3 linked regions of the Homo sapiens genome follow. The protein of the gene in region 1 purifies or fractionates together with the protein of each later gene. This does not show direct contact. Each region holds a gene or a part of one and is shown in the gene's direction. Other genes may lie near its edges. The genes, in order: ZNF7, DDI2 and SOX5.

Region 1 (3,509 bases):
CAAGCCTGAGCTGATCTCTCGGCTGGAGCAGGGAGAAGAGCCATGGGTCCTCGACCTGCAGGGAGCAGAGGGGACAGAGGCACCAAGGACCTCCAAGACAGGTGAGGCTTAGATCCCATCGCAGAGAAGCCCTGGGGTGAGGAGAAACTGCAGGAGGGGCCTCACAACTGTGGGTAGCTGTGGGTGAGTCGCGGGGGCTACACTGGGATGCCTGGGAATGCTACTGGGGAAGCAGCATCCAGCACCTAGAAGGGAGCATAGACCCGTTGTGGGGCTGCCTTGGGAGAGGCCAAACTGCAGAAGAGCCAAGACACAAAAACCCATGCATTTCCACAAAAACGGAGCTTGTTTTTGAATCATGTCACATTTTGTTCTATTTTTAATTTTACTCATACTTTCGTTAAGCAAAGATACAAACCTATGGATCCAAGTGAAGGGTTAGGTTTGGCATTCAGTAACCTCTCCTCGGGTAAGCATATTCCCTGAGGCAGCTCCCTTCAGACCCTCTCAGGCTCCAGGAGTGCATTACTTTCCTGTGGCTGCCATAACAATGAACCACAGACTAGGAAGCTTAAAACAACAGAAATTTATTGTCTCACAGCTGTGGAGGCCGGAAATCTGAAACCGGGGGGTCAGCAAGCAGGGCCGTGCCCCCCTGTGAAGGCTTTAGGGAAGGATCCTGTCCTGCCTCTCCGGGCAGCTGGTGGTTTTCTGGCAGTCCTTGGGTTCCTTGGCTTGTGGATGCGTCCCTCACTCTGATCTCCGACTCCTTCACACGGCTGCCTTCTCCCTGCGTGTCTGTGTTCATGTGGCCATCTCCTTAGAAGGACACCAGTCATGGTGGGTTAGGGGCCACCCCAGTGACCTCATGGTGACTAATTAATCTGCAACGACTGTGTTTCCAAACAAGGTCACATTCTGAGGTGCTTCAAGTTAGGACTTCAGCCTATCTTGGGGTCCTCAGCCCTAACCAGGGCACCCACTGCCTCCGGCATCAGCTCCTGCTGGGCAGGCGCCCGGCCTGGTGCTCTGCTCCCCTGCTTAGCCGGTGTGCTGCCCAGCATGACAAGGGAGATGGGTCTGCGTGCATCTCAGCTGCAGAAAGGAAGCCCCTCACCTCCCTTTCAGTTGCTGCTGGGTCATCACCGTCACTCCTGCAGCAGGGCAGGACCAGGTCCTACAGAGGCCACCGGCTTGTAGGGGCCTCGGGAAGCAAGTTGGACAGTCCAAAGTTGTGAAAAGTAGGGGCCGTGGAGCCGGGCATGGTGGCTCACGCCGGCCATTCTAGCGATTTGGGAGGCCGAGGTGGGCGGATCACGAGGTCAGGAGATCGAGACCATCCTGGCCAACACGGTGAAACCCTGTGTCTACTAAAAATACAAAAAATTAACCAGGCGTGGTGGCAGGCGCCTGTAGTCCCAGCTACTCGGGAGGCCGAGGCAGGAGAATGGTGTGAGCCCAGGAGGCAGAGCTTGCAGTGAGCCGAGATTGCGCTACTGCACTCCAGCCTGGGCGACAGAGCGAGATGACGTCTCAAAAAAAAAAAAAAAAAAAAAGCAGGGGCTGTGATCTTACTTCCATTCATATGCGCCTAGGGGCTGTGACCTTACTTCCATTCATATGCGCCTAGGGGCTGTGACCTTACTTCCATTCATATGCGCCTAGGGGCTGTGACCTTACTTCCATTCATATGCGCCTAGGGGCTGTGACCTTACTTCCATTCATATGCGCCTAGGGGCTGTGACCTTACTTCCATTCATATGCGCCTAGGGGCTGTGACCTTACTTCCATTCATATGCGCCTAGGGGCTGTGACCTTACTTCCATTCATATGCCCCTAGGCAGCTTCAAAGGACAAGGAGGGTTTCTGAGCCTCTTCACGCCCTGTGGGCCTTGCAGCCGCCCAGGAAGTCTGCATGTGATGTGTGGGAAGAGTGGTCAGGAACCCTGGCCTCACTGGCTCTGCTGGCTACTCCCATGTGATCCTTTCTGCTCAGTCTCCCTGAGAAGGAGGTTCAGCTATAAGGTGGCCCAGTTAAAACCCAGCCGCCCATTAAAATGTCTCCAACATGGACAGGAGCGTTTAAAGAGGGTGCCATGGCAGAAAAGCCAGCTACAGTTGGCAGAAATAGTTCAGTGGGTTTATATGTAGCAGGTGGTCCTCACTGTGATAAAGCAACAACAAAAAAATAGAATCCCACAGTAGGTGAGAGCTGCTGTTGATGGACCCAGCACTTGCTCGCAGACCTGAGAGTCCGGGGCAGGGATGTAGCCTCTTAGATAAAACATGCAGCAGCACAAAACCAGAATACATGAAGCAAGGCAGAAATGCCCAGATATGTTACTTGTCCCCAGCTGGTACAGTCAGCATCAGATACTGAAAGATATTGGCCCAGAGCAGTGGAGGAGCGGCCAGGTCCCAGCTGTGCACCCCCACGCTTTTGACCACCACCGTGCCCCCTGCTGGGTGGTTCCTGGCATCCCCCAACAAAGCCTTGCTGTCAGCTTGGCCCTGCTCTCTCTGCCGCTGCTCTTTATTTTTTTATTTTTTGAGATGGAGTCTTTGTTGCCCAGGCTGGAGTGCAGTGGCATGATCTTGGCTCACTGCAACCTCTGCCTGCCAGGTTCAAGTGATTCTTGTGCCTCAGCCTCCCAAGTAGCCGGGATTACAGGCGTGAGCCACTGCACCTGGCCACCCTGCTCTCTTATCTTCACAGCAGGGGAAGGCTTGGGAGGAGTGTCAAGCAAGCCCTGTTGAAAGAGCAGGCATGCTGAGGTGGTGTGGTTGTGCAGGGAAAGCAGCACATGAGGACCAGGCCTGGAGATGCCTCCTGTCCTCACAGGCCTTGAGCATCCCTGCTACACAATGAGGTTGAAAGGGCTTCCTGCTCTGATTCTCCAGGACTGATAGGAAGACCTTTGGAGATCCCTGGAAGCCGGAGACTCACCACCAATGGTTAGGAGTGGGCAGGAACCGAAGCTTGAAGCCCTGTAACTGGGCTGTGCATTCATGTGGGGTAGACTCGGGCTGGTTATAGCTGTGGCTGCGTGGTTGTGGTTGTGAACGTGATTGTGTCGTGGTGGGGACCGTGGTTGTCATGATCATAGCCGTGTGTTGTGGTTGCATCCTGTCATGGTTTGATCACAGACATCAAGGAGATGTCTGACCTCAGCAGAGGTGCCCTCTAGGGTTACAGAGTAGGACAGAAGCCTGTGCTTACTTGGAGAGTCCAGAAGGAACGCAGATGTCTGGAAGGCCTCCTGGGGGCCTCCAGAAACTTGCAGCCCCAGGGAAGAAGTCAGTGTGGTCTTAGAGGTGGCCACGCACAGCCCAGGGAGAAGCAGGGGAGGTGGCCAGGTGCAAGTTGGCAGCAGCAGCCAGGAGGCAGCTGAGGGGGCTGGGTCCTGCTCAGAGAAGCCCACCCCAGGGAGTAGCCATGAACGGCCTAGGTGCCCAGTGCTCTTCTGAGCTCACGTAGTAAGTCCCTTGGCAGCTCTTCCAGCCTTGTT
Region 2 (3,653 bases), on another chromosome or scaffold:
GAAGAGAGGATGTACGGCCAGAGGAGATTGCAGACCAAGAATTAGCAGAAGCCCTTCAAAAATCAGCAGAGGATGCAGGTATTTGGGATGGCCAAACTCTTCAATACTTGTTATTGATGGGTAAGCCCGGGAAGTGTGGGCTTCAGAAGGGGTAGGAACCTTTCCAGTTTTTAATTAGTCTCATGGTCCAGTAGTAGATGTGTTCATTATTTGTCTTCTTAACCTCCTTCTTTGATCTTCCTTTTTTTTTTTTTTTTTTTTTTTTGGAGACATTGTCTCACTCTGTCACCCAGGTTGGAGTGCAGTGTGCAGTGTGACATGATTGTAGTTCACTGCACCCTTGACTTCCTGGGCTCAAGCAGTCCTCTCACCTCAGCCTCCTGAGTAGCTGGGACTACACCTGGCTAATTTTTTATTTTTAGCAGAGATAGGGTCTTGCTGTGTTGTCCAGGCCTATCTCCAACTCCTGGGCTCAAGCAGTCCTCCTGCCTTGGCCTCCCGAAGTGCTGGGATTACAGGTGTGAGCTACCATATCCAAACCCCATCTCTTAATACAATAATGAAAAAGTCTGTATTCTGGCCCGGCGTGGTGGCTCACGCCTGTTAATCCCAGCACTTTGGGAGGCTCCGGAGGGGGGGGGGGGGGGGCGGATCACCTGAGGTCAGGAGTTTGAGACCAGCCTGGTCATGGTGAAACCCCATCTCTACTAAAAATATAAAAATTGGCCAGGCGCGGTGGCTCACGCCTGTAATCCCAGCACTTTGGGAGGCTGAGGCAGGTGGATCACGAGGTCAGGAGATGGAGACCATCCTGGCTAACACGGTGAAACCCCGTCTCTACTAAATATACAAAAAATTAGCCGGGCGTAGTGGTAGGCGCCTGTATTCCCAGCTACTCAGGAGGCTGAGGCAGGAGAATGACATAAACCCAGGGGGCGGAGCTTGCAGTGAGCTGAGATCGCACCACTGCACTCCAGCCTGGGTAAGAGAGCGAGACTCCATCTCAAAAAAAAATAATAATAAAAATTAAAAAAAAATTAGCAGGGTGCAGTGGCACACCCCCCGTAACCCCAGTTACTTGGGAGGCTGAGGCAGGAGAATTGCTTGAACTTGGGAGGCGGAGGTTGCAGTGAGTCAAGATGGCACCACTGCACTCTAGCCTGGGCAACAGAGTGAGACACTATCTCATAAAAAAGAGAAACATTCTGTTTTTTAGTATTTCAACAGATTAAGAACAGCTCAGTCCATTGCTGTGTTTAAGATAGATTGGGGTTATTTTGCTTAGACACATTTTAGAAGCTTCCTAAATTTTTTTAGGAAGTTTTTTTTGGATGTTTTTGTTTTTGTGATTTTCCTAAAGAAAATTTTGACAGTAAGCAGATGTTAACTTTTGAGTCCAACAGTATTTCCCTATTTCTTTCCTTTTCTTAGGACTGTTTTATTTTATTTTATTTATTTTATTTTATTTTATTTATATAGACAGAGTCTTGCTCTGCTGCCCATGCTGGAGTGCAGTGGCGCAGCCATGGCTCACTGCAGCCTCAGTCTCAGTCTCACAGGCTCAAGCAGATCCTCTCGCCTCCGCCTCCCAAAGTATTACAGGCATGAGCCACCATGCCTCTTAGGCCTGGTTTATTTTGAAAAGTATCATTGCTACTGTGTGTGAGCAGCCCTAACTTCACCGAAGACAGAAGAACCAACAAAAAGAAGTATAAATTTTTATTTACTTAATTAAAAAAAAAATTTTTTTTTGAGACAAGGTCTTACTCTGTCACCCAGACTGATCCTCCCATCTCCCCTTCCTGACTAGCTATGACTACAGGTGCCTGCTACCATGTCCAGCTAATTTCTGTATTTTTTGTAAAGATGAGGTTTTGCCATGTTGCCCAGGCTGGTCTTGAACTCCTGGGCTCAAGCAATCCACCCGCCTCAGCCTCTCAAAATGACAGGATTATAGGAACGAGACACCATGCCTGACCAGCATAATTGAACGTTACTGAAAATGCAGTGTTATGGTGTGAGATTACAGTATTGTCATCAGGCCATATTAGCACTGTATATATTGAAATCATGCTACCTAATACTTTTTTCTAAGTCTCAGTTATTTAGCTTGTTTAAATGTAATGATGGAGCTAAGTTTTCTAGGTAAAATGGGGTAACAGTTTTGCTGAAATCCCCCATTTATTATAGAACGGTGACTCTGGGATGTATTTTCTAGAAGCTGAATAGAATTTACTTTTGAGTTTGGGTTATTTTACAGTCTTGTGCTGGCATTATTCATCAGTATGACTAGTATCACACATTGCTTTTTCTAGTACAGTAAATTATTAAGAGTTACAAGTTCAGGGAATAGCTTTATCCTAAAGACGAAAGTGGTAAGAGTTTTAAAAACAGCCAGGCAGCTTTTGCCACTGTTTTACTGGAGAACATTCAGATGTCTGTCATTGAGCTTTAGAATGGGTGTGGGTGGCAGATGGAGTTTTCCAGGTTGACTTTGTTCAGAATCAACTCCATCACCTTTTGGCTTAGTTTTATGTATAAAGTACAGTTTGAGTCAGGGCGTGGTGGCTTATGCCTGTGATCCCAGTACTTTGGTAGGCCAAGGCAGGACGACCACTTGAGCCTGGGAATTTGAAACCAGCCTGGGCAACATAGTGAGTCTTTGTTTCTACAAGAAATTTAAAAAAAAAATTAGCCAGCCATGGTGGCGCGCCTATGGTCTCAGCTGTTTGAGAGGCTGAGATGGGAGGATCACCTAAGCCCAGGAGGTCAAGGCTGCTGTGAGCCATCATCGCTGCCACTGCAATCCAGCCTGGGTGACAGAGTGAGATCCTGTGTCCAAAAAAAAAAAAAAAACAACAGAATTGACTCCCATCACTTTTTGGCTCAAGTTTTTATATTAACTACAGTTTTGGTTGTAACTTAAGTATTTTGTAGGAAGGGAGGAATTTTGAACAACCAGACAGAGACTAACTTAATAGTTTTAATCTTACCTGCAAGGTAAGCTTGAATGAATTTGACATAGCTCCTTACAAGGTTTTGCATTTGGGGTGTAATTTATCATCTTAGTCGTGATGCTGTGTGTTAATATGAGGATATATTATCATTTTATGAAATGTCTTTTTTTTTTTTTTCCTTTTAACCTCCACAGTCTTGGTGCCATTATTTAAGAAACATTAGCTGATAATAGCAGTGTTTTCTAACCTACTAATAACAGTTATCCTTTTTTGGTAATTACCTTATTTTAGTAAAAGTTTGGAAGATTAAAACAGATACACATATGTTTCCAGGCTTAGTGAAGGGGATGTACCAACTTCAAAGAATTAAAAAGAAATGGCTTTTTACCTAAATAACCTTTTGTTGCTGGTAGTATAGCTTGTGCTAATTTTTGTAATGTTTAAGTAATGAAATAATTCTACATATCAGGTCCTTTTTATTTAGAACATCGACTTCCTAATATCATCCGAATAAATACTCTGGACATAGTAGGTGAAAGTATTTTGTTAACAACTTCTTTCTGGCCAAGCATGGTGGCTCATGCCTGTGGTCCCAACACTTTGGGAGGCTGAGGTGGGGAGATCACTTGAACCTATGGATTTGAGACCAGCCTGGGCAGCATGGCAAAACACTTGTTTCTAAAAAAAAAAACCACG
Region 3 (3,653 bases), on another chromosome or scaffold:
TTTCTCTACTGTATTTTATACTGATTGACAATTTAAAAATAGTTTTCTATTAAATAATGTACATAATTTGATGAATAGAGTACAGGAGTTCCAAGGCCACTGACTTAAGAGATTTTTTAATTTAGTATGTACAGTTGTCACATTGTCAGAGACTTCATTGAGATAAAGCATGTACTGTGTTAAGAATTTCAATATCTCATTAGTTCTTGGTGGGAACATTAGTTGGGCCCTTTACCTGTAATACAATTATCTTACATCATTGATTACTTTCTGTGAACATTTTATTGTGTCAATAGCAGTTCTGCAGTGTATGTCGTTCACTAGTATGATTCATGACTATGTTCCTCAGAAAATGAGGTGAATAATTATAAAGAAACTTGAGATAATGTTATGAGATCCAATGGATGCATTTCTTAAAACTGTTTTGGTGCTGTTTGGTACTACATCATCCTCAGAGCAGTGCTGGAGAGTTCACGAGAAAGTTATCAAGTTTCATTATATGCTTTTTCTGTTCCTAAAGTCACCCAGTTTCTTAATTTGACAGTAATGTCTCATATGGTTTAGATTAAGCATTATATTTTTCTTAAAAATAATTTATTTTGAAATGCTATGTTCTCCATGAATGTGAATCGTGCACTGCATGCTTAAACAACTTGATGTCTCTGTAGATCTAATTTTGGTATATTTGTATCTCAAATAATTCGCCAACTCAATATTTTGGCTTAGCAATCCAAATCAAATTGTGGTCCAAGTAGCAGGCACTCACATTGGATGTACAGAGACTTGACAAGCAATTAGCAATGAATATTTAAACGTCTTCATTACCCTTGCATGAGGAATGCAGATGGCATTTGGGAAGATGGCAACCAGAGGGCACTACTGTGAATTATGTTTCTATTATTTGGTCACCTGACTATTGGAAGACTTTCTCTGGGCTTCACGCCACTCCTATACTTCTACTGTCTGGCCAAAAATAAAGCAGACATTCCAAATGTAAAACAGGTTGCTTCCATGAAATTTCTGTGCACATTTTGTAATTTGGGAAGGTTGTCTCCAAGGATCCCGGCATATATCCCTTAGGCATACCAAACCCAAACGCCAAGACTTTATAGGGGTCTATGAGAATCAGAGTTCCTTCAAAAATCGTGCTGATCATCCCCTTAATGACTTCAGGTTAATGTGCTGAACGTAAAAAGGTGAATATATCAACATTGCATCCTTTCCAGGAGTTAATGTATTATATATGTGGCCCAAAAAAAGAAAGTCTTCAAATAATTTTAATTCCTAGACTGATCTCTCATTATAATTTTTTTAAAGGAAAAAACAACACTGGAGAGTCTGACTCAGCAACTGGCAGTTAAACAGAATGAAGAAGGAAAATTTAGCCATGCAATGATGGATTTCAATCTGAGTGGAGATTCTGATGGTTTGTGAAAATTGTTCATACATATTCTAATAATGCAAGAAAGTGTCTAGGTAGTGCCAATTAAAACTGCTAAAAAATAGACTAGACAGCCACCTCATACCTCATCATTACAATAAGAGGTCACATATACTGAGCAGTCCCCATGTGCCAAGCACTCTGCTGAGTGCTTTGCAGAAATCGTCTCATTTAATTCCTAGTCAACCTAGGATAAGTCCCATTGCAGAGAAAGAGCCTGAGCCTCAGGAGTTTTGAAGCATTTTCCCCAGGTCACAGGGCTCTAAGTGTCAGAGGCAAGAATTAAATTCGAGATGGCATGATTCTAAAGCAAATGCTCAAAATGCTTAGCTTCCCAGGCTCAAGTGATCCTCCCACTTTAGCCTCCCAAGTAGCTGGGATTATAGGTGCATGCCAACATGCCCAGCAATTTTGTTTTTTTTTTTTGAGATGAGGACTTACTTACTATGGTGTCCAGGCTGGTCTCAAACTCCTGGGCTCAAGTGATCCTCCCACCTCAGCCTCCCAAAGTGCTAGTTTTATAGGCGTGAGTTACTGCATGCGGCCTCACTTCCCTATTTCTTGTACCCAAAATGAACTTTTTCAGAAATTTGTTTCTATTGGCTCATTTTTTAAGTTTCTATTTGTCAAGCCCTCACCAGAATACATGGCTCAGAGGACATTTCCACGATAGTTTCTTACATTTTGGAACCCTTCTCCCTAGTGCTATGTACTACATAGTCAAGTGTCGGGCCCACTCTCTATAACCTAACTAGAAACCAGCTGCACAGCTTTATGCTCCCTTCTCATAGGCCTTCAGACTTCTGTTTTCTGTATCATCTCTGAACATTCTAAACATCCACAGTGAGAAGAAATTAAATTGATACTCTGATTTTTAATAGCGTAGCAAAGAGGGAAAAAGAAGGAAGTGCTGTTCTTCTTATACAATACCCTGACCGGGAACATCTCTCTACTGTCAGGTGGCATCCATGCATTTTAAGCATTCCTTTGGCAGTACCGCCCTCAACTTTGTTACTACTACAGGGAAGTTCCCTGCATATAGAGAAGAGTGCACAAAGGCAAACCAGTGAGATGCATACTTTGAGAGGGGGTCCCCTTGAATCCTCCAATATACACAACTGTTTACTCTGTGCCTTGGGCCAATTCTACTTTTAAGACCAGGTCTATACTAATCAAGGGACTAAACAAACCTGAACGTTGAAACACGTAATTCTATCAAAACTGAATTTTACTCAATTGGATTCAATTTGCATTTTTCTGGGTCTAATGTTGCAAACATTTTCTTCTATTTTCAGCTCCACTTAGCTAAGATAAACCTAGCCTATGTACATTTAAAGAGCTTGTTTAGATTTGATGAAGACACATAATGTTCATTTTATTGCTTATGTTGCTGTAAGGTGTAAGAACAAGAAAAGGCAGATGTGCAAATGATCACTTGCTAGTTACAAACCCATTTTAGGAAGATGTTGCCATATATTTGCACTTATTTTGTCAATAAAAGACAATTACGGGTAATAACACATTTCATAAATTTTAAGTTGTATTAGCATGATAAAATATACCCACAGTAATCAGCATTAACACATCAAAGTTTTTGTTGCTGTCATTACCTAAATTCAATCATGCTTGTATGTGAAATATTTTCTACTTTTCATTAAATCAAAGAGCATGTTATTAATGAAAAATATTGAGAAACTTCACCAACAGGTATGCTATGTTTTGAATGTGCTGCTATAGAGGTCTTCAAGTTTGGGCAATTTTGTTTGATTCCTGTGTCTCCAAATTTAAAAATAAAGAAAAGATGAGGAATGAATACAAAGCAAGAAAAGAAAAGCAGTGCTTTTGTTGATAATACAGTCTCTACAAGTCCCCAAAGTATTTTTAAAGTTTTGGATACTATCAAAATACATCTACTTATTTTGTGATAATACCCAGTGAAAACCTACTGTCAGAGTTCTACTGGTTCTCCTTATTTTCTCTTTGCCTAAACTCAAGTATCTTGGAAGCAATTTAATCTGCTGAAGCCATTCTAAGGGGTCACATAAGGCTGGAGGAGTGAATGCAGCTTCCAAAGCTATCGTTGTTAACTCTTGAATTGTGTTTTATCATCTGTGAATCTTACTGATTGAAATGTGACTGTCCATGGGACTCTTTGGATAACTTTAAATATTAGGGGGAAAATTCAAAGGAAATTATTATTTTTCTCATCTTA

What was found.
Region 2: the proteins of ZNF7 (region 1) and DDI2 purify together in Homo sapiens (co-immunoprecipitation; one large-scale study listed by IntAct). This does not show direct contact.
Region 3: the proteins of ZNF7 (region 1) and SOX5 purify together in Homo sapiens (affinity purification with mass spectrometry; one large-scale study listed by BioGRID and IntAct). This does not show direct contact.

What each region holds. Positions count from the first base shown.
Region 1 is NC_000008.11:144,837,407-144,840,915, forward strand, and holds part of ZNF7 (zinc finger protein 7), read left to right. Parts: coding exon 1-101; intron 102-571; exon of another isoform or gene 572-3,509.
Region 2 is NC_000001.11:15,651,818-15,655,470, forward strand, and holds part of DDI2 (protein DDI1 homolog 2), read left to right. Parts: coding exon 1-78; intron 79-3,653. UniProt on the Homo sapiens protein: Aspartic protease that mediates the cleavage of NFE2L1/NRF1 at 'Leu-104', thereby promoting release of NFE2L1/NRF1 from the endoplasmic reticulum membrane.
Region 3 is NC_000012.12:23,544,089-23,547,741, reverse strand, and holds part of SOX5 (transcription factor SOX-5), read left to right. Parts: intron 1-1,317; coding exon 1,318-1,426; intron 1,427-3,653.